3 separate regions of the Homo sapiens genome follow, and regions 2 and 3 are each linked to region 1. Evidence: fine-mapped expression QTL. A gene starts in region 1. Each other region holds a variant in brackets. All regions are shown on one strand. Distances are from middle to middle.

The links. PIP is the estimated chance that this variant, and not a neighbour inherited with it, causes the effect.
Region 2: its variant is fine-mapped to the expression of TK1 in whole blood (TOPMed, PIP above 0.99).
Region 3: its variant is fine-mapped to the expression of TK1 in vagina (GTEx, PIP above 0.99).

The regions. Positions count from the first base shown.
Region 1 is chr17:78,181,619-78,189,545 of GRCh38, forward strand. It overlaps TK1 (thymidine kinase 1), which reads right to left and starts at 5,434. Exons shown (of 7, transcript NM_003258.5): 1 at 5,311-5,434; 2 at 5,169-5,200; 3 at 3,437-3,547; 4 at 971-1,064. The coding sequence starts at 5,376. AFMID (arylformamidase) reads left to right here and starts at 5,744. Exons shown (of 11, transcript NM_001010982.5): 1 at 5,744-5,815. The coding sequence starts at 5,753. RefSeq lists an enhancer at 2,647-3,548 and a silencer at 5,587-5,726.
Region 2 is chr17:78,159,019-78,166,945 of GRCh38, forward strand. It overlaps C17orf99 (chromosome 17 open reading frame 99), which reads left to right. Exons shown (of 5, transcript NM_001163075.2): 3 at 1,937-2,236; 4 at 5,077-5,346; 5 at 6,871-7,279. The coding sequence ends at 7,028. It also overlaps the pseudogene EIF5AP2. Among named protein-coding and RNA genes, the nearest start is that of SYNGR2, 5.6 kb to the right of the region's middle. RefSeq lists enhancers at 892-1,051, 5,043-5,543 and silencers at 1,272-1,321, 1,362-1,411. The variant C/A (reference allele first, on the strand shown) is at 5,782.
Region 3 is chr17:77,973,246-77,981,172 of GRCh38, forward strand. The region is part of intron 1 of TNRC6C (trinucleotide repeat containing adaptor 6C); the gene reads left to right. Among named protein-coding and RNA genes, the nearest start is that of TNRC6C, 19 kb to the left of the region's middle. The variant C/T (reference allele first, on the strand shown) is at 3,886.

The DNA of each region.
Region 1 (7,927 bases):
TTTCCATACAAAGACTGGCAGCTTCCCATCTATACCTCCTGGCTGCAAAAACTACTAAAAAAGGTACTTCAACAACAAGAAAATAAACGTATAAGAAACAAGCAAAAGGAACCATGAGGCAAACCAAACATTACTCCCCACCTCCCCCTTTTTTTTTTGAGACAGGGTCTGGCCTTGTCGCCCGGGCTGGAGTGCAGTGGTGCTATCACCACTCACTGCAGCCTCGACCTCCCAGGCTCCATCCTTCTGCCTCAGCCTCCTGAGTAGCAGGGACCACAGGTGTGCGCTGCTATGACTGGCTAATTTCTTTTTTTTTTTGGTAGAGATGGGGTTTTACTATGTTGCCCAGGTGAGTCTCCAACTCCTGGGCTCAAGTGATCTGTCCACCTTGGCCTCCCACAGGCTGAGATTACAGGTGTGAGTCACTGCATCTTGCCAGTAAATAGATATATGTATTTTTAAAAAGGTACAATGGCCAGGTGTGGTAGCTCATGCCTGTAATCCCAGCGCTTTGGGAGTTCAAGGCGGGGCGGATCACCTGAGGTTGGGAGTTTGAGACCAGCTTGACCAACATGGAGAAACCCCATCTCTACTAAAAATATAAAATTAGCTGGGCGTGGTGGCGCATGCCTGTAATCCCAGCTACTCGGGAGGCTGAGACAGGAGAGAATTGCTTGAACCCAGGAAGCAAAGTTTGCGGTGAGATTGTGCCATCGTACTCCGGCCTGGGCAACAAGAGCAAAACTCCGTCTCAAAAAAAAAAAAAAAAAAGTAAAACGAATCCTACAAGACTATGACACTATGACAGGGAAACTAGAAAGGGGCCTTCAGAGGGTATTCCAACACTAGTTGTAGCTATTTAACCTTGTTATTTTACTAAAAGATCAGATAACTTCCAAGTCAGCGAGGGAAAACGGGAGGACAGAGCGGAAGCTGGCAGGAAGAGTGATGCCAAGACAAGCCAACTTACAAACTGCCCCTCGTCGATGCCTATGACAGCCACGCCCAGGGCCTCCTGGGCCACGTCTCGGAGCAGGCAGGCGGGCAGTGCCTCCATGGTGTTCCTGGGAAGAGAAAGCCAGAGCGTGAGCAGGGCCAGGGAGGCCAGAAGCCACAATGCAGGGGCCAGGGAATGGCACTGTCGTGACCACCTGCTACCTGCAAAGCAGGCTCAGTGTTCACCCAGCCGGGCTTTGAGAAGTTAGCACCTATGGGAAAGGCCCTCGTCCAGAAAACCAGTTATTTATTTATTTTTTATGAAACAGAGTCTTGCTCTGTCACCCAGGCTGGAGTGCAGTGGCGCCATCTCGGCTCCCTGCAATCTCTACCTCCCAATTCTCAAGGGTCTCAAGCGATTCTCCCACCTCAGCCACAAGAGTAGCTGGGACTACTGGCACACACCATCACACCCAGCTAATTTTTGTATTTTTAGCAGACATGGGGTTTCACCATGTTGGCCAGGCTGGTCTCAGACTCCTAACTTTTAAGTGATCCACCCGCCTTAGCCTCCCAGAGGAAAACCAGTTATTTATACAAGCCACTTCACTTGATGCTTTGGATTAGAAATTAGTAATGTCCAGTACAAAGCTCAATGAGACTAAAAACTCTTCCACTGTTCAGGAGCTGGGGGCAGACTAGGCCAACTTCATCAGGTACCAGGGCCCATGATACCATTAGGGGCCAGCCAAATGTTTCCTTTTAAAATTCAGAAGAATGAATAACTAGAACTGGGCCTGGGTTATATTTGTCTTTATATTAATTATGTTGCAAAACATAAATTTTTAAAATCCTGTATTCTGGCCAGACACAGCAGCTCATGCCCGTAATCTTTGGGGAGGCCAAGACGGGAGGATCACTTGAACTCAGGAGTTCGAGACCAGCCTGGGTAACACAGCGAGACACTGTGTGAAAAAAATGTAAAAATTAACTGGGTGTGGTGGTGTGCGCCTGTAGTCCCACCTGCTCAGGGGGCTGAGGTGGGACGATCACTTGAGCCCAAGGGTTTGGGGTCACGTAACAGTAAGCTATGATTGAGCCACTGCACTCCAGCCTGGGTGACAGAGAGAGACCCTGTCCCAAAAACAAACAACAAACAAACAAAAAAACATACTTTACAACTATTGTTTCGTTATTACCTTGCTATAATCCTACTTCGAGTTCTGGAAAGAATGTGTGAAACAGTATTTTGGGCATTTTAAATTCCCTCTTCCCTCCCTAAACAGAGAAAGACAAAGTGAGGGCAGGTGGGAGGCCAGCTGTGGCCCCTGCAAGGGCAGCCTCTCGAGCCATCAATGCTGCTGGCCCAGCCTTGGCCTCTGTGGCCCGTGTTAGAGATGACTTGTGACACACGGGCAGAACTCATATTTAATCCCGGATCTGACTGACTCCAGAAGTTGTACTTCCAACAGCTGGAACGAAGTGACCTCCTCTGCTTTCCCTGTCCCCACCAGGTGTAACACCACCCTGTGCCGTGGACATCGCATCTTAGGAATGAGGAAGCAAATTTGGAAAAGTAAATGACCTACATCAGACAGCATGGTCACGAAGTGCGGTTAAATTCCCACATGCAACTCCAAGCCCCAAGCACCCTCCACTCCACCAGCATCTGGCTTCAGGAGCCCCTCAGCTCCCACCGAAGGCCACACGCCGGGTGGATCTGTTCTCTGCACAGCCATAGCAACTCTCGGATACAGCTCCCAGCCAGGGCTCTGAGGCTGAAGCCCTATAATGTGTGGCACAGCATGGCTTTGCCACTGGGTGCCCAGGTGGACAAGTCCAGAGGACCAAGCAAAGCGTCTCAGGCTCAGAAACATCAGGCCCACATCTGCTGCCAAGGAAGTGAATTTAACTCCCAAACTGAGGTTGCAGGCGGAAATGTCCAGCGAGCTCAAACAGCTACACATAAAACAGGGAAGCGTGAAGGCTGCCAGGTGACGGGGGAGCCAGCCAACAACGGACAACTAAAAAATTAAACAAAAATCAACGTGCAGGCCAAACCAAACCAGTCTGCAGCCTGTGTGAAGCTGAAACCCTACGGCAGAGTTTCTGAACACTGGCAGGCTCCTGACATTTGGGGCCAGCTCGTTCTTGCATGGGGGCCGTCCTCTGCACCATAGGACCCTTAGCAGCAGTGTCCCTGATTTCTACACATTAAAGCCCAAAAGCATCCCCTCCCCCCTCCAGTTGCAACAACTAGAAATGTCTTCAAACATTGTCAAATGGACCCTGGCGGCAAAATCACCCTCAGTGGAGAACCACTGGCTCCAGCCCAGGGAGTGGAGAGTGTGCGCTACCTTGCCAAGCACCTTGGAAAGTGTGCTGATTTGAATCATTCAATGTTCAAATGATTAACCATCCCCATTAAAGAGAGTCCTAACAGTGTGTCCTGTGCCTTGTGATTTTCCACTGGACAGGACTGCAGGGGGCAGGGACTGACCGGTCATGTGTGCAGAAGCTGCTGCTGTAGCGAGTGTCTTTGGCATACTTGATCACCAGGCACTTGTACTGAGCAATCTGGAAGCGACGGACGCGTCTCATCAACTCTGTGCTGCAAGAGGAGAGAGGGTCAGGTGAGGTCCACGGCGGGAGGAGTGGGAGAAGGAGACCCCTCCCCAACAAGCCTGGCTCCTCATTGTCCCTAGTGGTATGCAGACTGAGCCCACCACAGCCAGAAAAGAGCAGGGCAGAGCAGGCAGGGTATAATATCCCTACAAAGAGGGTTGGAAGTCAGAATTCTCTATGGGGAAGAGGTCCAGGAATGGTACTCAGGTGGTCCCAGGAAGTGTGGGAGGAGTAACCTTCTCCAAGATGTAGTGGGGAAGGCAGAAGCAAAGGCTACATGTAGAGGGAACCTGCGACTGCATTCCAAAGTAACCTCATCCCAGAGTTGTTCCCAGAGTTCAGAGTTTTTCTTTCTTTCTTTTTGGGGTGGAGTCTCGCTCTGTTGCCTAGGTTAGAGTGCAGTGGAGCGATCTCAGCTCACTGCAACCCCTGCCTTCCGGGTTCAAGAGATTCTCCTGCCTCAACCTCCCGAGTAGCTGGGATTACAGGAGGCTGCCACCATGCCCAGATAATTTTTGGTTTTTTTTTTCAGTAGAGATGGGGTTTTACCACGTTGACCAGGGTGGTCTCAAACTCCTAACCTCAAGTGATCAACGCACCTCAGCCTTCCAAAGCGCTGGGATTAAAGGCGTGGGCCACCACACCTGGCATACAGCTTTTCTAAATTAATTTCAGAAAGTCTTTGTGTGCAGCGTCAAAAGCACTTGCTTCTGGGTCCAAGAAGTCCAACTCTGAGCCACATCTTCCTGAGCAAGGGGTTTGAGCTGAAGTGATCCCCAGGGCCATAAAAGAATGTTGGGGCAGGGCATGGTGGCTAACATCTGTAATCCCAGCACTTTGGGATGCTGAAGTAGGAGGATTGCTTGAGACCAGGAGTTCAAGACCAGCTTGGGCAACATAGCAAGACCCCAGCTCTATAAAAATAAAATAAAATTAGCTGGGTGGAGGCGGGGGGGTGCACGCCTGTAGTCCCAGCTACTTGGGAGGCTGAGGTGAGAGAATTGCTTGAGCCCAGGAGTTTGAGACCAGCCTGGGCAACATAGCAAGATCCTACCTCTAGAAGAACAAAAACAAAACAAAAAGAATGGTGCGTGGGTAGTTTACTCAAGAAACTCACTAGCCCCACCCGGGTCAGGGAATGGTTCTATCACCTCAGGAGAGCAGAGGCTCCACGGCTTCAGACTCCTTGGTTTAGAAAGCGACTACGTTTCCTTGGCCTTAGAAGGAAACAGCCACATTGAATAGGGGTGTACAAAAAGGCCTGGCCTACAGGGGACACAACTGGTTGCCACCTTCTCAGAGGACTTGGTGGGGAAGACAGCTAAGCTGTAAGCAGCTGTCACCAGCTCCAGGAGGGAGTGGCGTCCACACAGGACGAGGGGCTTGGCCTGGGCAGAAGAGGGCAGAGACTTCCTCCTGGACTGAATTCAAGGGAGGAGCACCCCAGGCGGGAGCTGTAGGAGGCTGTGCTGGTCCTTCTAGGGGAAGGGAAGGGGAGGGAAGGGAAGGGGAGGGGAGGGGAGGGGAGGGAAGGGGAGGGGAGGGACGGGACAAGGGGTCCCCGGAGAAGAGGAAGGAGCTCCACCCCAGCCCCGCGAAGCCATTACCTTTTTCCTGAGAACATCGGCCCGAGAATCACCTAGGAGAGAAGGTGAGGTCATTTGAGGGCCCGCCCTGCGCGGATGCCTGGACACAGGCTATCACCACGACCACCTCATCCCCAGCCACGCGCAGGGCTGGCCCCCGCACCTGGATCTGCCCCCGGGTCTTGCTGGGGGAGCCAGGCAGCACAGTGGGCAGGTTAATGCAGCTCATTGCGCCTCCGGGAAGTTCACGAACCCGAGTACTCTCCAAGGCCGTCCCGCAGTAAGCCCCTGGTTCCCGCGCCGACCGCTTTAAACCACGGCGTGCTGGCCAATCACGAGCCGGCCCCGCCGCCATGGGGCCAATCAGCGCCCGGCCGCTGACCTGGCGGGAGATTTGGCCGCAGCCCGCCCCCTCGTGGGAGGAATCCGGGACGTGCGCCCAGGGACTGGGAGGGCCTGGAAATCAGGGCGATGGACGTGGCTGATCGGGGTGGGGCCTGGTCTGAGCCCCGCCTCGGTCCGCCCACCAAGTTTAAAGGGGCGGAGCGAGGCGGGGCTCTGGCCATATAAACAGAGGGACGCACGCCCATGCGGCTGTAGACGCCATGATGGATGTGTCTGGTGTGGGTTTCCCAAGCAAGGTTCCTTGGAAGAAGATGTCTGCAGAGGTAGGTGGATTGCAGGGAGGGACTAAGGGGCTGGGGCGGAGTTAGCTCATTTATTAGATTGGAATTCCAAGAAGGAAGCTTAGAAGCCGTCTAGAGCACTCCTGTGGGCATGCAGAGCGCCTAGTGCGTGCCAGGTCCCCAGTGCTTGAGCACCATGGTGTATTTTACCTTCTCCTAAGGATTTTTGTTAACCTGGTTTTCAGGATAAAGAAAATTGAAGTCCTGACTATGCTAATAATATCCGTAGACCCTGCCAGGCGTGGCGGCTCACACCTGTAATCCTAGCACTTTTGGCGGATCACGAGGTCAGGAGTTCGAGACCAGCCTGGCCAACATGGTGAAACCCCGTTTCTACTAAAAATACAAAAATTAGCCGGGCGTGGTGATGTACCTCTGTAATCCCAGCTACTGGGGAGGCTGAGACAGGAGAATCGCTTGAACCCAGGAGGTGGAGGTTGCAGTGAGCCGAGATCATGCCATTTGTACTCCAGCCTGGAAGGCTGGGCGATAGACCAAGACTTAGTCTCAAAAAAAAAAAAAAAAAAAAAAAAAAAAATCCATAGACCCGCAGGAGGTTAGGGGACAAAGTTCTGGACCTTGATCTGAGGTTACACAATGTTTTTGGGTCTGTGCTTATGTGGCACAGGCTGAAGGATTCAGAACAGCTGGTATTTACATTGGGGTTGTGAAGGTTAGAAACATACAGGCCGGGTGCGGTGGCTCAAAAAAAAAAAGAAAGAAAGAAAAGAAACCCATTGTATAATCATGATCATAAATAATAGCAACAAAGATGGTGGTAGTGATCACAGAGTGTGCCAGGTGTGGCTGTAAGGATCCTACAGGTAATAACCTTTCCAGGTACAGATTGGACAGATCCAAGGACCTCTGACAAAGAGCTCCTTCACTGGGAGGAAGAAGCAACCCACACTGACTGGCTTGCTTTATTTTACTCGCATGCTTTATCTCTTTTAACCTTGTGATTTGGATACATGCCTTCTTTTTTTGAGACACAGTCTCGCTCAGTCACCCAGGCTGGAGTGCAGTGGCATGATCTCGGCTCACTGCAACCTCTACCTCCCGGGTTCAAGTGATTCTCCTGCCTCAGCCTCCCGAGTGGCTGGGATTACAGGCACACTGTAGCTGGTACTACATGCCTGGCTAATTTTTTTTTTTTTTCTTTTGAGACAGAGTCTCGCTCTATCGCCCAGGCTGGAGTGCAGTGGCGCGATCTGGGCTCACTGCAACCTCTTCTTCCAGGGTTCACGCCATTCTCCGGCCTCAGCCTCCTGAGTAGCTGGGACTACATGCGCCCGCAACCATGCCCGGCTAATTTTTTTGTATTTTTAGTAGAGATGGGGTTTCACTGTGTTAGCCAGGATGGTCTCCAACTCCTGACCTCATGATCCGCCCCCCTTGGCCTCCCAAAGTGCTGGGTTTACAGGCATGAGCCACTGCGCCTGGCCAATTTTTGTATTTTTAATAGAGATGGGGTTTCGCCATGTTGGACAGACTGGTCTTGAACTCCTGGCCTCAAGTGATCCACCCGCCTCGGCCTCCCAAAGTGCTGAGATTACAGGTGTGAGCCACTGTGCCGGGCCTGGATAGATACCTTCTACCAGTCAGGAAACTGAATCTCAGAGACTAAGTAACTTGTTGAGGATAAAACAGTAAGTAAGTGAGGGAGGTCAGATGGCATTTGACCTCAGGCCTTGCCATGAGGCTGCCCTGACTTCCCATTTCTCATGATGGTTTTGAGCCCTTTCTTCAAAATCTGGTTCCTTGTTACTTTTTTTTTTTTTTTTTTTTGAGATGGAGTCTCGCTGTTGTCACCCAGGCTAGAGTGCAATGGTGGGATCTCAGCTCGCTGCAACCTCCACCTCCCGAGTTCCAGCGATTCTCCTGCCTCAGCCTCCCGAGTAGCTGAGATTACGGGCGCCCGCCACCATGCCCAGCTAATTTTTGTATTTTTAGTAGAGACGGAGTTTCACCATGTTGGCCAGGATGGTCTCGAACTCCTGACCTCAGGTGATTCACCCGCCTCAGCCTCCCAAAGTGCTGGGATTACAGGTGTGAGCCACCACGCCCAGTGTTTTGTTTTTTTTTTTTTGAAAC
Region 2 (7,927 bases), 23 kb before region 1:
CCCCTCCTCAGGCATCTGGGAGAGCCCTGCCCCCACGGGCTTTACCCTTCCCTGCAGGCTCTCTCCCCGACACATTTGTTAAAATCAAACCTGAATAAAACTACAAGTTTAATATGATTTAAAAAAAAAAGGAAAAGAAAAAACCCCGTCTCTACTAAAAATACAAAAATTAGCTGGGCATGGTGGTGCATGCCTGGAGTCCCCACTACATGGTAGGCTGAGACAGGAGAATCGCTTGAACCCAGGAGGTGGAGGTTGCAGTGAGCTGAGATCGTGCTACTGCACTCCATTCTGGACGACAGAGCAAGACTCTGTCTTTAAATAAATAAATAAAAGTGGGCCGGGCGCAGTGGCTCACATCTGTAATCCCAGCACTTTGGGAGGCTGAGGTGGCCAGACCACCTGAGGTCTCGAGTTCAAGACCAGTCTGGCCAACATGATGAAACCCCATGTCTACTAAAAATACAAAAATTAGCCAGGCGTAGTGGTGGGTGCCTGTAATCCCAGCTACTCTGGAGGCTGAGGCACGAGAATCTCTTGAACACGGGAGGCGACAGTGCAAGACTCTGTCTCAAAAAAAAAAAAAAGTGATAATTCAGCAGCATTTAGTGCATCCATAGTGTTGCTCAACCACCACCGCTATCTAGTTCCGAGAGATTTTCATCACCCCAAAAGGAAACCCCGTATCTATTAGGCAGTTACTCCCCATTTCCCCCTCCCCTGGGCCCCAGTAACCACCAATCTGCTTTCTGTCTCTGTGGGTTCTCCTGTTCTGAACTTTGCACACACATGGAATCATGCAACCGTTGCCCTTTGCGTCTGCCTTTTTGTTTAGTGGAATGTTGTTACGGCTCATCCCTGTTGCAGCCTGCATCTGTGCTCATTTCTTTCTAAGGCTGAGTAATATTCCTTATATGGATCAACCACATTCTATTTACCCATTCGTCCATTGATAGATATTTGGGCCGTTTCCACCATTTGGCTGTGGTGAATCACGCTGCCATGAGCGTGTGTGTACAGGTATCTGTTTGAGTCCCTGTTTTCTATTATTTGGTGTATGTCTAGGCCTGGAATTGTTGAGTCATATGGTAAGTCTGTTTAACTTTTTGAGGAACCACTAAATCAGTATTTTCTTTCTTTCTTTTTTCTTTACTCTGAGGTCTACTGGTTTCACTTATTTATTTGTAATTTTTAGGTTCAGGGGTACATGTGCAGGTTTGTTATAGAAGTAAATTGCAGCCGGGCGCGGTGGCTCACGCCTGTAATCCCAGCACTTTGGGAGGCCAAGGCGGGTGGATCACGAGGTCAGGAGTTTGAGACCAGCCTGACCAACATGGTGAAACCCTGTCTCTACTAAAAATACAAAAATTAGCCAGGCGTGGTGGCACGCGCCTGCAGTCCCAGCTATTCGGGAGGCTGAAGCAGGAGAATCACTTGAACTCAGGAGGCGAAGGTTGTGGTGAGCAGAGATCGCGCCACTGCACTCCAGCCTGGGTGACAGAGCAAGACTCCATCTAAAAAAAAAAAAAAGAGAGAGAGAGAGAGAACATGCTAAACCCAGCATCCTTTTTCTTTTTTTCCTGAGTCTCCCTCTGTCGCCCAGGCTGGAGTGCAGTGGTGTGATCTCGGCTCACTGCCACCTGCCACCTCCGCCTTCCTGGTTCAAGAGATTCTCCTGCCTTAGCTTCCCGAGTAGCAGGGATTACAGGTGGGCACCACCACGCCCGGCTAATTTTTGTATTTTAGTAGAGACAGACTTTCACCATGTTGGCTACACTGGTTTTGAACTCCTGACCTCAAGTGATCCGTCCACCTGGACCTCCCAAACACTGGGATTACAGGTGTTTGCCACCGAGCCTGGCCAAACCAGTACCTTCTTAAGGTGCTTGATCAATGTCGGTTTCTTTCTTCCTCCTTGGACCTTTTCATCTCCCAGAAATTACCCCTGTGGTCTCCATTGCCTACAAAGTCCTGGAAGTTTTCCCCAAAGGCCGCTGGGTGCTCATAACCTGCTGTGCACCCCAGCCACCACCGCCCATCACCTATTCCCTCTGTGGAACCAAGAACATCAAGGTGGCCAAGAAGGTGGTGAAGACCCACGAGCCGGCCTCCTTCAACCTCAACGTCACACTCAAGTCCAGTCCAGACCTGCTCACCTACTTCTGCTGGGCGTCCTCCACCTCAGGTGCCCATGTGGACAGTGCCAGGCTACAGATGCACTGGGAGCTGTGGTCCAGTGAGTGCGGTGGGGGGCACAGGGCTGAGGAGGCAGGTGGGGTGCAGATCAATGGGGAGCTCTGGGAGTGGGGATTGTGAACCTTGCTGGGGTTAGAGAGAGCCAGGGTGTGAGGGTGTGGACAAGGACAGGCTGCCACCTCCAAGGCCATTCTCAGTCCCTTGGGGCCTTTAATCAGGACTTGCTGTCCCTGGCTGGGGCCCTGAGGGCACAGTCTCCTGGCAGGGGCCTGAGGGCACAGAGGGAAAGAGCCCGATGGTGGCAGAAATGACTGGGCCCCAGTTGTCAGCTCGGACCTCAAGGTGATAAACTAGGCACGTTTGTCTGGGCGCAAATCCCAGCACTGTGGGAGGCCGAGACAGGCTGATCGCTTGAGCCCAGGAGTTCGATACCAGCCTGGGCAACATGGCGAAACCCTGTTCCTACTAAAATTACAAAGATTAGCTGGGCGTGGCGGGGTGCACCTGTAGTTCCAGCTACTCAGGAGGCTGAGGCAGGAGAATCGCTTGAACCCGGGAGGCAGAGGTTGCAGTGAGCCAAGATTGCGCCACTGTACTCCAGCCTGGGTAACAGAGCGTCTCCAAAAAAAAAAAAAAGAAAAAGAAACGAAAAAAAAGTTAGGCACGTTTTGTGCATTACTTCGCTTGATCTTCACAGCAGTGTCAGGGGTGGGGTCTGAGCCTCTGGGTCTATAGCTATGTAAGCTAAAACTCTGGGGAGTTAAGAAAGTTGCCCCAGGGGCTGGGTGTGGTGGCTCACGCCTATAAGCCCAGCATTTTGGGAGGCCCAGGCGGGAGGATCACTTGAGCTCAGGAGTTTGAGACCAGTCTGGCCAACGTAGTGAAACCCCATCTCTACTAAAAATACAAAAATTAGCTGGGTGTGGTGGTGGGCACCTATAATCCCAGCTACTGGGGAGGCTGAGGCAAGAGAGTCACTTGAACCCAGGAGATGAAGGTTGCAGTGAGCCAAGGTCGTGCTGCTGCATGCCAGCCTGGGTGACAGCGTAAGACTATCTCAAAAAAAAAAAAAAAAAAAAGTCGCCCCAGGCCACATGGCTGGCAAGTGGCCAAGGCTGCTTTCAAACCCCACTCTGTCCAGCTCCAAACCCTGCCTTCTTCCTGTTTCCATCCTGATAGTAACTCAGGTAACCTTCTTGGTGGGAGCTATGGGGTATGGGAACCAGGAAGTGTTGCCCGACTTAGGGTGGGACAAGGAATCGCCCCATTCATCCTTTGGCCCGCACCCTAAGAACACCAGGAAAAGACAGCCTAGGGGAGATGAGCCCAGGATCTGCAGCCCAACGGGTCCAAGGTTCAAATCCCTACACTTACTGGCTGGGGTCTTGAACAACTCATTGGACCGCTGAGCTTCAACTGCTTTATCTGCAAAAGGAAAATAATAACAGAGGCCAGTGAGGTGGCTCACACCTGTATTCCCAGCATTTTGGGAGGCCAAGGTGGGAGAATCCTTTGAAGCCAAGAGTTTGAGACCAGCCTGGACCACAGAGTGATACTCTGTGTCTGCAAAAAAATTATTTTCTTTTTTTGAGATGGAGTCTTGCTCTGTCGCCCAGGCTGAACTGCAGTGGCACGATCTCGGCTCACCGCAACCTCCGCCTCCCAGATTCAAGCGATTCTCCTGCCTCAGCCTCCCGAGTAGCTGGGACTACAGGCCCTTGCCCCCATGCCGGCTAATTTTTGTATTTTTAGTAGACACGGGGTTTCACCATGTTGGCCAGGCTGGTCTCAAACTCCTGACCTCAAGTGATCCACCTACCTAGGCCTCCTAAAGTGCTGGGATTATAGGCGTGAGCCACTGCACCCAGCCAATAGCAATTTTTTAAAAAATTAATCAGGTATGGTGGTGCATGCCTGTCGTCCCAGCTACTTGGGTGGCTGAGGTGGGAGGATCATTTGAGCCCAGGAGTTGGAGGCTGCAGTGAGCGGTGATCACACCATTGCACTCTAGCCTGGGCAACAGAGACCCTGTCTCTAAAATAATAATAGGTCCTACTTCAGGGGACCTATTAAATGAAAGCCTTTTAGTAGGTGGCAAGTGTGGTGGTGATTACTCATCAGTAAGAATGTCTAGAGCATTAGGCTCAAGGCCTGGGGGATTCTAGAATCTTCTACATGACAGTTTTTGTCCTGAAGTAGCTTGCCTTTCAGTAAAAAAGACGAGACTGAATGATAGAGTTGCCAGATAAATTTTACATAGGACATACGTATAGTAAAAGATTATTCATTGTTTATCTGAAATGAAAATTTAACTGTATTTTTATTTGCTAAGTCTGGCAATCTGAAATACGCTACACAAGAATAAAACCAGGCCGGGCACGGTGGCTCACGCCTAAAATCCCAGCACTTTGGGAGGCTGAGGCAGAAGATTGCTTGAGCCCAGGAGTTTGAGACCAGCCTGGCCAACATGGTGAAACCCCATCTCTGCAAAAAATACAAAAATTAGCTGGATGTGGTGGTGCACACCTGTAGTCCTAGCTACTCGGGAGGCTGAGATGGGAGAATTGCTCGAGCTGGGGAGGCGGAGGTTGCAGTGAGCCTAGATCGCGCCATTGCACTCCAGCCTGGGCGACAGAGCAAGACCCTGTCTCAAAATAAAGTAAGAATAAGATAAAAACCAAATGTGAAATTGTGTGGTACACACGGCAGGTAGGGCAGCAGCCCAGACACAAGGTGGAGGGCAAACTCTAGAAGGCGGCCTGGAGGAGGCGGCAGCCACAGCTAAGCTCATTAGGCATTTTGTAATGAGGAGAACTTACTGAGGAGGAGGGGTTTAAAACCGCTCAGCCATGCCTGTGCTACCTTCTCCCACCCTGCCAGAGCCAGTGTCTGAGCTGCGGGCCAACTTCACTCTGCAGGACAGAGGGGCAGGCCCCAGGGTGGAGATGATCTGCCAGGCGTCCTCGGGCAGCCCACCTATCACCAACAGCCTGATCGGGAAGGATGGGCAGGTCCACCTGCAGCAGAGACCATGCCACAGGCAGCCTGCCAACTTCTCCTTCCTGCCGAGCCAGACATCGGACTGGTTCTGGTGCCAGGCTGCAAACAACGCCAATGTCCAGCACAGCGCCCTCACAGTGGTGCCCCCAGGTGAGAGGGCCCTTGGATTTCCAGAGGGGCAGCTGGCGCTTCTGTGCCGGGAGGGTGCTAGTGTCCAAGACACAGGTCGATGGGAAGTGGGACAGCTCTACCCGGCCACTGCTGAGAGCAGAGAGGGCACAGGAGGCAACCATGCCCACCCTGGCCCCTGCCTAAAGGAAGCCCAACCCAGCTGCCTCCGCCCCCTCCCAGGAGGGTTGCCCAGGGCACCCACCATCGTGCTGGTTGGCAGCCTTGCCTCCACTGCGGCCATCACCTCCAGGATGCTGGGCTGGACCACGTGGGCCAGGTAGGAAATGGGTGCTCGATGCAGGGAGGAGGGAGAGCTGCTGATGGCCTGAGAGGTCCAACCGGGCCCTGGCTGCAGAGCTCAGGTGGTGGGGCTTGCAGGGCAGGGCTGTGGCCAGGGCAAAGAGCGGCCATCAC[C/A]GCTTACGCATGACTCGAAGGTGTTTATGAGGACCTACTGTGTGCCATGTGCCTACTGAGGCTTACACATTCAAGGCGTTATCGGACCCTGACCAGTGCTCCCAGGTGCCCTGTAACACAGTCTGCTGGCCTCTGGGAGGGCAGTCTCCTAAGTTCTTTATGGGGTCTGAGCAGGGATTGCAGGGATGATGCCTCCAGGAGACCAAGGTGGACCAGGAGCTCCTGCCTTCTGTGAGAACCACCTTGGGCAGTCTTTCCGAGGTGGTGGCAAGAGCCTGGGGCCCAGCCTCCCAGGGTCCCCTCTCCAAGGCCATGGCTTTACTAACATGTAAAGTGACCAAGGCCTTTGTAGTGTCTGAGTGCAGGCACCACAGGCCTGTGTGCTCTGCCTGTCTGGCTTTGGTGGTGGCCAGCCCTGCCTCTGTGAACTCATCTCTCTTTGTTTGGGAGACACTGCCGTGTCCTGGTTCTCATCCTCTGCCCGTGGCCCAGGCCCTTACGTGGCTCTACCAGGAGTCTGTCCTTGGCACTTTCCCATCTCACTTCTACCAAGTCTGTTCTTTCCAGAAGCCAGACTCGTGGGTGAGCCATGTCACCTCGCCGAGCCTCAGTTTTTCCTTCTGTAAAATGGGGTACAGCCTTCATTTAGTGGGGTGAGTAAGCCTCATGTCTCTTCTGCTGGGGCACTGATGTGCTTGGCACCATAAAACTCCCAGAGGCAGGCCGGGCACAGTGGCTCATGCCTGGAATCTCAGCACTTTGGGAGGCTGAGGCAGGCGAATCACCTGAGGTCAGGAGTTCGAGACCAGCCTGGCCAACATGAAGAAACCCCGTCTCTACTAAAAATACAAAATTAGCCGGGCGTGGTGGTGCGCACCTGTAGTCCCAGCTACTCGGGAGACTGAGGCAGGAGAATCACTTGAACCCAGGAGGTGGAGGTTGCAGTGAGCCGAGATCGTGCCATTGCACTCCAGCCTGGACAAAAAGAGCAAAACTCCGTCTCAAAACAAACGAACACTCTCAGACGCCTCGGGAGGGGATGGCTGGGAGGTGAGCCTGCCTGACTTGAGTCTCCACTGCTTTGTCAAGGTGGTGACCAGAAGATGGAGGACTGGCAGGGTCCCCTGGAGAGCCCCATCCTTGCCTTGCCGCTCTACAGGAGCACCCGCCGTCTGAGTGAAGAGGAGTTTGGGGGGTTCAGGATAGGGAATGGGGAGGTCAGAGGACGCAAAGCAGCAGCCATGTAGAATGAACCGTCCAGAGAGCCAAGCACGGCAGAGGACTGCAGGCCATCAGCGTGCACTGTTCGTATTTGGAGTTCATGCAAAATGAGTGTGTTTTAGCTGCTCTTGCCACAAAAAAAAAAAAAAAAAAAAAAGGGTAACTATGAGAGATGGTGGATATGTTAACTTGCTTCGCTATAGGAACCTTTGTGCTATCTATATTATCTATATGAATCCCATCATATCAGGTTGTCTACCTTAAATATACACAAAAACATTTATTTAAAAAAAAGAAAAAAGCCTGCCAGCTGGGATTCTTGGAGTGCTGGTGGCCTTCAGCAAACACAGACACTGTTGGTGTGAGGGCTTCAGGAGGGTCACAGAAATAAGGGGGTCTGTGTGGCCCTGTCCTCGCCTCTCAGGTGCTGTCACATCTCTCTGGGTGTAGGGAGAGGGAGGGGGGCACACTGCGAAAAGGCCCAGCCCCTCCCCCCCACCTGCTCCCCTCTTCCCTGGAGAGGCACCCCACCTCCTGGTGGCCCAGTCCTATGGTTCAACTCTCACGTGGTCCAGCTCACCTGGGTTGACTGTGAGCCCCACCTGGCACACCTGCTGTTGTTAATCTGCACCTGCAACTAGCAAAGGGGGGTCTGGAATTCTTCCGGGTTCAGTCAGCCTGTGATCCCACACCTCTGTCTGTACAACCTCCGCTCCCCACTCCAACACACACAGAGCCTGCCCCAGCCTACCCTGCACCAGACCCTCTGTACCGGTTTTTCTTGGGATGGAGGTAGAGAGGGACGGAGGCGAGAGGGGGCTGAACTGGAACTGGATTAAACTTTGCCATCTGCCTGTCGCCCTGAAAACTTCATTTCTGTTTGCATGCCATATATATATTTTTTTATATGTGGTCTTTTCTTTTT
Region 3 (7,927 bases), 210 kb before region 1:
CATCTCAATAAATGCAGAAAAAGCATTTGACAAAATCTAACATTCTTTCATGAGAAAAACTTTCAACAAATTAGGTATAAAAGAGAGCTGCTTCAACTTGATAAAAAGCACATATATGAAAAACCATACAAAACACAGTAATATTATACGGAAGAGTGAATGACGGAATGCTTTCTCTCCAAAACTGGGAAAAAAAGAATATCAGTTCAATGCTATTCAGCACTGATCTAGAGCTTCTAGCCTATGTAGTCAGGTAAGGGAAAGTAATAAAAGGCACCTGGATTAGAAAGGAAGCGGTGAAACCGTCCTTATCCACAGATGACATAACCCTGTGTATAGAAAATCCTTAGGAATCCACAAGAAAGGTTACTTGAACTAGTAAATAAGTTTAGTAAGGTCACAGCTTACAAGACCAGTGTTTGAAAATCATTTGTGTTTCTTGATGCTGGCAGTAAACAATCTGAAAATGAAATTAAGAAAACTCATTCACTATAACATCAAAAGCAACTAAATCCTGGGGAATAAATTTACAAAAGAAGTGAAGATGTTTACACCGAAACTGCAAAAACATTGCTGAGAGAAATTAAAGAGGATCCAAATAATTGGAGAGACATTCTGTGTTGATGGATGGGAAAACACAATATTGTTAATCTGGCACTCTACCTAGATTGATCTGTAGATTTGATGCATCTCTATCAAAATCCCAGAAGGCTTTTGTTGTTGTTGTTGTTGTTGTTTGTAAATTGACAGGCCAATTCTAAAATTTATGCAGAAATGCAAAAAGACCTGGAGAGAGGGAGGGAGGGAGGGGGAGGGGGGAGAGAGAGAGAGAGAAAGAAAGAAAAAGAATGGAGGTAAAACAGAACATGAAAAGTTAAAACAGGCTGAAGGAAAATATTTGCAAATCATAAAGCTAGTAAGGGACTTGTATTCAGAATATATAAAGAGCTCTCGTAACTTAATAATAAGACAAAGTACCCAATTTTAAAATGGGCGAAGGATTTCAATACACATGTCACCAAAAAAGATATACAAATAGCTGATAAACAGATGAGATTTCTTGCTATGTGTCCATTCAAATTTTCCATTTTTCCTGCATTGATTTTGTTAATTTGTCTATTCCTAGGAATTTGTACTTTCATCTAAATCATCTTTTGTTGGCATAAAGTTGTTTATGGTACCTACCTCAATTCCTGTAAAATCAGCAGTCATGTCCCCTCTTTCATTACCACCCCCGCCCCGCCCCAAAAAAAAAGTAAGAGGGAGAGATGGAGTCTTGCTGTGTTGCCCAGGCTGCCCTTGAACTCCTGGGCTTGAGAGATCCTCCCACCTTAACCTCAAGAGTAGCTGGGACTGCAGGCACGTGCCACTGCACCCTACTTGTGTATGTTTTTGGTTCATTTCGTTTTGGGTTTATATTACCATTGTTATTCAATGTTATGTGTAGTCAGGGTGATAATAGATTAGCAACAACAGTGCTATTAACAGGTATTATGTCTTGTTTCTCTGCTATGTTTCCAAGAACAAATCTTAACTCATTGAGTCTGTTCAAAATTCACAGTTCTGTAGAGTTCACCGAGGAGAAAACAGAGACCTAAAGAGGCAGTGTGACTTGCCCAAGATCAGGTAGTCCTGGGTTCAAACCCAGGTTTTGCAGAAAACTAATTCCATGCCTTTTGCCATAGGTAAATGAGCAAGGGAAAAAACAATTTGCAAAACAAATTTGTAAACAAACATCTTTAAAATGTATCTTTCTAGTAATCAAAGAAAGAAATAAGCCAGATTAAAAAAGAAACATTCAGTTGAGAAAACTTAAATATGATACTGAGGAGGATGAGAAAAGAAATTTCTTTAAGTCTCATGTATGGGGGGAAAAAAATTCTTCCATGCATCTTTTGCTGGTGGCCATGAAAACAGGTGTAAATACCTTCAGGTGGTGAAAATAATAATGTACATCAAAAGAATCAAATACGTTATTACCTTAGGAGGTTTTTTTTTAGCATCTGTATTAAGGTTTTTTTCTGATATACATTAAACTGCACATATTTAAAGTATAACATTCAATAAATGTTGATATACATATATATCTGTGAAACTACAGCCACAGTCAAGATAATGAGCATATCCACTGAGGTTGAGTGTTGAAATGTGCTGGTGGGAGGGCAGATGCAGTGTGCTGGAGGGAGAAAGAAGCCAAATTGTTAAAACTGGGCAACTGGTGGAAAGATGGTGGTGGAGGGAATGGGGAGACCTCCCTTATAATTTTGCCTATAAAGGCAGCTACACATAGCAGTTTTAAAAATATTTGTCATTCATGTAGGAAGGTAATCATTTCTTAAATATTTAATCAAACATTTTTCTTTTTTGGGTAAAATCTGGTCTTTTGAAAATATGAAATAGCATTGTGATTATGAGGCTTTGGGACATCATGTAAGAGTAAAGGTTCAACAACAGAAGTGGAAACTAATTTACAGTTGCCATCTTTTACTCTTGCCACATAAGACTTGAATAAAAAGTACCATGATATACTTTTATCATTACTTTATAAAGTAAAGGACTTTCTCATGCAAAGAAGTGGAAAGGATACCATCTTATAGGAGAATCCTATAAATTGAATAAATGCATCTTTATGAAAAATGTAGGTCGTCTTTATTTTTCTCATTCCATGGTGTTATAAAACTTTCTCAACTGATCATGGTCTTTAGAGTGAGTTGTCAACTCTGGGCTAGATTTCTAGGAATGCCACTTATTAGCTAGGTGACTTTGGGTTTAATTTTTATTTTCTCTGAGCCTTTGTTTGCTCAGCTAGAAGAAATGAATAATAATATATACTATTACAGGATTATTGTAAGAATTAAATGAGATAGTATGTAAGTTTCTCACATTGTAGGCTCATGTTATCTTCCTTATATTCAGCCCTGCGTAGTCTGTTTCTCACTATCACACATTTGCTCTTTAATTACATATTTGTGTATACGTTTCTGTAATTTCAAAGAAGTGAGTCAAATTTAACCCTATCATAGACATGACTATAGTAATCATTTTGGTATGTTTTATAAGGTGGGTGAGGGAGGTTGTTTTGCCCTGAAAACATCTACAAATGCTAGCATATAAAATTGAGCAAAAGATGTGGGATAGAGATTGAATTCATATTCTTTGTGAAGACTATTAGGATTTGTTCTTGTGATGATCAGATTGTCAGTTCAGTTTACTGTATTTCACACACAGTAGCCCCAGTTAGGGTTCCAGAAATGCTTATAAATTTGTCTCCTGTGGTATTATCTTAATGTGGTGTTGGATTCTTCATCGCTGAAGTCAGCTATTCAGGTAAAACTTTATTTGGTAAGATCAGATACCTAAGCAATATATAGTCACTAAGTCACTTCATATATAAAACTTGGGGCCGGATACGGTGGCTCATGCCTGTAATCCCAGCACTTTGGGACGCCAAGGCAGGTGGATCACCTGAGGTCAGGAGTTAGAGATCAGCCTAACCAATATGGTGAAACCCCATCTCTACTAAAAATACAAAAATTATCTGGGCGTGGTGGCAGGTGCTTATAATCCCAGCTATTGGGGAGGCTGAGGCAGGAGAATTGCTTGAATCCAGGTGGTGGAGGTTGCAGTGAGCCAAGATTGCACCATTGCACTCCAGCTCAGGCGACAAGAGCAAGACTCCATCTCAGAAAAAAAAAAAAAAAAAAAAAAAAAAAAACTTGGTTTCCCCTTCATTTTACAGGTATGTTAAAGAGGAAAAAAATAGAATGCTTAACATGTTGCTACTTGTGTACAAATTGTATTAATCATTATATGATAAATGTTTCCAGATGGTATCTATTTTATGGTACTTAGACTTTCTAACTTTTATAATGATTACTATATATA[C/T]GTTTTCTTTCTCCTACTAGATTATAAACTCCTTGAAGGCAGGATTCATGTTTAGTTTATCTTTTCATAAAACTTAGCTGTGTGTATTGATTTATACATATGTATTTAGTAAATATAGCTTGATTAATTGAATAAATCTTCATATGTAGTAGATTTCTGTATTGACTTCTGCTGGTATAAATTTTCTCTACAAAGTTTGATGAGATAGGAGTGATGGGGAAAATATGAAGAGCATTAATGTATCATTTTCATTTCCACTAGTATCTTTGCTAGACCCCTAATCTCCAGTAGTTAAAGCTTTGGGTTATGAAAAGGAACTCCTTGTCTCCGAAGTGGTAGATATTTTTTATGATATGTTGCAAAACAAAAAGACAACTTTTTAGTTCAGAAGGGAACCAGCATTTATTAAGCCCTAGCTATGTGCTAGGATAGGATCTTTTAAGTAGTCCCAGATCCCTTTGAGAATTCAGAAAACCTAAATAAAACAAGAAAGAAATTTTAATTATAAAAGAATTATCTCCAAAAAGTTTCTCCTTTTCAACCTTTCATGCTTTTAATATTTACTATGTAAATTGCCTAAGAACTTAAAAAACAGGGACAGCTTTCCAGTTTATTTTATGAAGCTAACATACCAAAGACACAAAAAATGATAGGCAAATATCTAACTTTAGATTTTTGTCACATAAGTGTATGTGAGACTCTTAAAATAATTTACCAGAAAGTGTAATTCATCAGTATCAGTATTTTTTCTTTAAAACCTCTTTTTTTTTTTTTTTTTTTTTTGAGGCAGAGTCTCGCTCTGTCGTGCAGGCTGGAGTGCAGTGGCGCAATCTCGGCTCACTGCAAGCTCTGCCTCCCAGGTTCATACCATTCTTCTGCCTCAGCCTCCTGGGTAGCTGGGACTACAGGCGCCCGCCACCACGCCCAGCTAATTTTTTTTGTATTTTTAGTAGGCACGGGGTTTCACCATGTTAGCCAGGATGGTCTCGATCTCCTGACCTTGTGATCCACCCGCCTCAGCCTCCCGAAGTACTGGGATTACAGGCGTGAGCCACCGCGCCCGGCCTAAAACCTCTTTCTAAAGAGAATTTGAGACAAATGCAACAGCATATTAAAACAATAGAATAGTAGAAGTAAGGCTTATCTTTAGAATGCAAAGAACTCTACTAATATTCCTCCACATTGGTAGATCAAGGAAGTAAATTCATAAGATTATCTCACTTGCTACCTGTAAGGTCATATAGTAAAGCTCAGTATTATTTTGGGTGTCTGCTTCTGGCTAAGACAGACTAGCCAGTGTCAGACCAACCCTGCCGCCGGGAACTAAAATGCTTAGGTAAATAATAAAAAGCAACTGTTTGAAGGTATTAGAAGCTACTAGGACACTGAAGACTTTGAGGCCAAGATCCTAGAGAGAAGGGAGGTCTAAAGAGGCAGAATAAACATTTGGTGCCACATGACCCCTCAGAAGCATTTGCCAGCTTCAGTGCTAGGACTGAAAACCTGAACAAAAAGCTGAGGTTGAGCAGCTAAGCAGAGTTTTCAATAGATGTCAGAGGCGGGGGTCACAAAAACGGGAGTTCAGGGATGACAGACCCTGGTAAACATCCCAGGCTTTTGGTTGGAACCACCCTTCTTACCCCCTAAAAACCCCAACTTTTTACCCTAGGTGTATGGTGAACCTAAAAATTTTCCTGAAATCCAGCCCTCACAAAACACAAAAACTTAGTTTTGAATTGGCTGAAATAGATTAAAGTGATTCACCCTTGCTCTTAAATGCTTGTCAGAAGCAAAACTAAATCCTCTCTAGAGGAAGGTAACATTCACAGCCTCAGCCTATCTCCACAGTTTTGTGCATGCAAGATTAACATTCAGTCAAAAACTAAGCATATAAAAAGAGGCAGGCGATAAGGTTACCCACAGGAGATCTAGATATTAGGGTTATCAGACATGGACCTTAAGGTAATGTTGATAAATATGTTTAGTAAATTAAGTGACAAATGGAGGATTTCAGAAAGAACTGGACACTATTAAAAAAGTTAAATGGAAATTCTGGAATTGAAAAGTGCAATATAGGGTGACAATAGTTTACAATAATCTTTTGTATATTTTAAAATAGCTAGAAGAGAAGAATTTGAATTTTTTAACATAAAGACATTTAAGGTGATGGATATCCCAATTACACTGATTTGATCCTTACAAATCATATGAATGTACTAAATTATCACATGAATCCTGAAAGTATGTGTATCTGTTATGCATCAATTAAAAATTAAAAAGAACTTTTAAAAGTGCAGCAACTCAAATTAGGAATTAAACAGGAGGGTTTAATAGTATTCTTAGCTGAAGAAAAAATTAGTAAACTAGAAGATAGATCAGAAGACAATATCCATACCAAAGCACAGAGAGACAAAAGGATGGAAAATGAAAAGAAAAAGAAAAATATGTAAGAGACAAATGGGACACTGTTAAAAGTCTAAAATACTTATAATTGGAATCTCGGAGAGGAGAAAGAATAGGTCAGAAGCAATAGTAAAAGACATAATAACTTGAGAATCTTCCAAAACTAATACAGACTTGCATATTTGAGAATCACTGTAGCTCTAAGCAGAATCAATACCAAAAAACAAAAATAAAGGGAAAAGAGAGGAAAAATTGCCAAAACAAAGAAAATCTTAAAATCAGCCAAAGGAGGAAAAAGATACATTACCTTCAAAGGAGCGGCAGTAAAGACGGACAGTCTACTTTGCAAAGAAATGGAAATCAAAATACAGTGGAACGATATCTTCAAAGTGTTGTAAGAAAATAACTGCCAACCTAGAAATCTGTATGAAGCAAAAATATCTTTCAAAAATGAAGTGAGAATATAGACATCTTCAGACAGACAAAAATTAGAATTCATCACCAGCAGATCTACACTAGAGGTACTATAAAGAAAGTTCTTCAGGTAAAAGGAAAATTATCCCAGCTGGAAGCATGGAGATGCAGGAAGGAGTAAAGAGCACTGGAAAGGATAGATAGACGAATACATCTAAAATAATGTGAACTGTGTAAAACAGTAAAAATATTGATAGGTGCAGCAAACCACCATGGCACACGTTTACCTGTGTAACCTGCACATCCTGCGCATGTACCTGGAACTTAAAAATTTTTAAAGTAAAAATAATAAATGGCAACAGCAACACAGAAAGCTGGAAGAGAGTTCTGATGGGGGAAAAACACAGGTTATTTTTCCTCGGCTCTCACTCTACAACAGTGATCATCACAGAGGACTTCTTTGACCAAATGTGTGGATTTCTCCCCACGTGCCAAGCAAGCAGTCAGTTCTGCAGTGGACACCAGCTGGGTCGGTCTCAACACAGAAGACTTCTGTGAGCAAATGTGTGAGGGTTTCTTCTCACACATCAAACAAGCAAGGAGTTCTGCTGTGGATATCAGGTGGGTACCCTCCAATTCCATTTCAACATTATCTACCTGGAGATAACTCAGATCTCACAGGTTGAAGACTCAGTCTCCAGGACTGTCCCTCCTTGAGACACCAGTTGCAAGTCTGGGCCTCCAGAACTTCTGACCCACTAGCTTCAAGTTGGGATTCCCACCACCCCTCTTTGGGTTCAGTTAATTTGCTAGAGTGGCTCACAGAACTCAGGGAAATAATTACGTTTACCAGGTTATTACAAAGGATATTATGAAGGAAACAGATGAAGAAATGCCTAGAACAAGGTATGGGGGGTGGGTGCTTCCATGCCCTCTCTGTTGCACCGCCCTCCTGGCATCTCCATTTGCTCGGGCATTTGGAAGCTCTCCAAACCCAATCCTTTTGGGTTTGTTTTGTTTTGTTATGTTTTTTGGTTTTTTGGTTTTGGAGGCAGTCTCACTCTATTGTCCAGGCTGGAGTGCAGTGGTGCAGTTACGGCTCACTGCAGCCTCAACCTCCTGGACTCAAGCCATCCTCCCACCTCAGCCTCCTGAGTAGCTGGGACTCCAGGCACGTACCATCATGCTAGGCTAATTTTTTAAAAAAAATTTTGTAGAGGTGGGG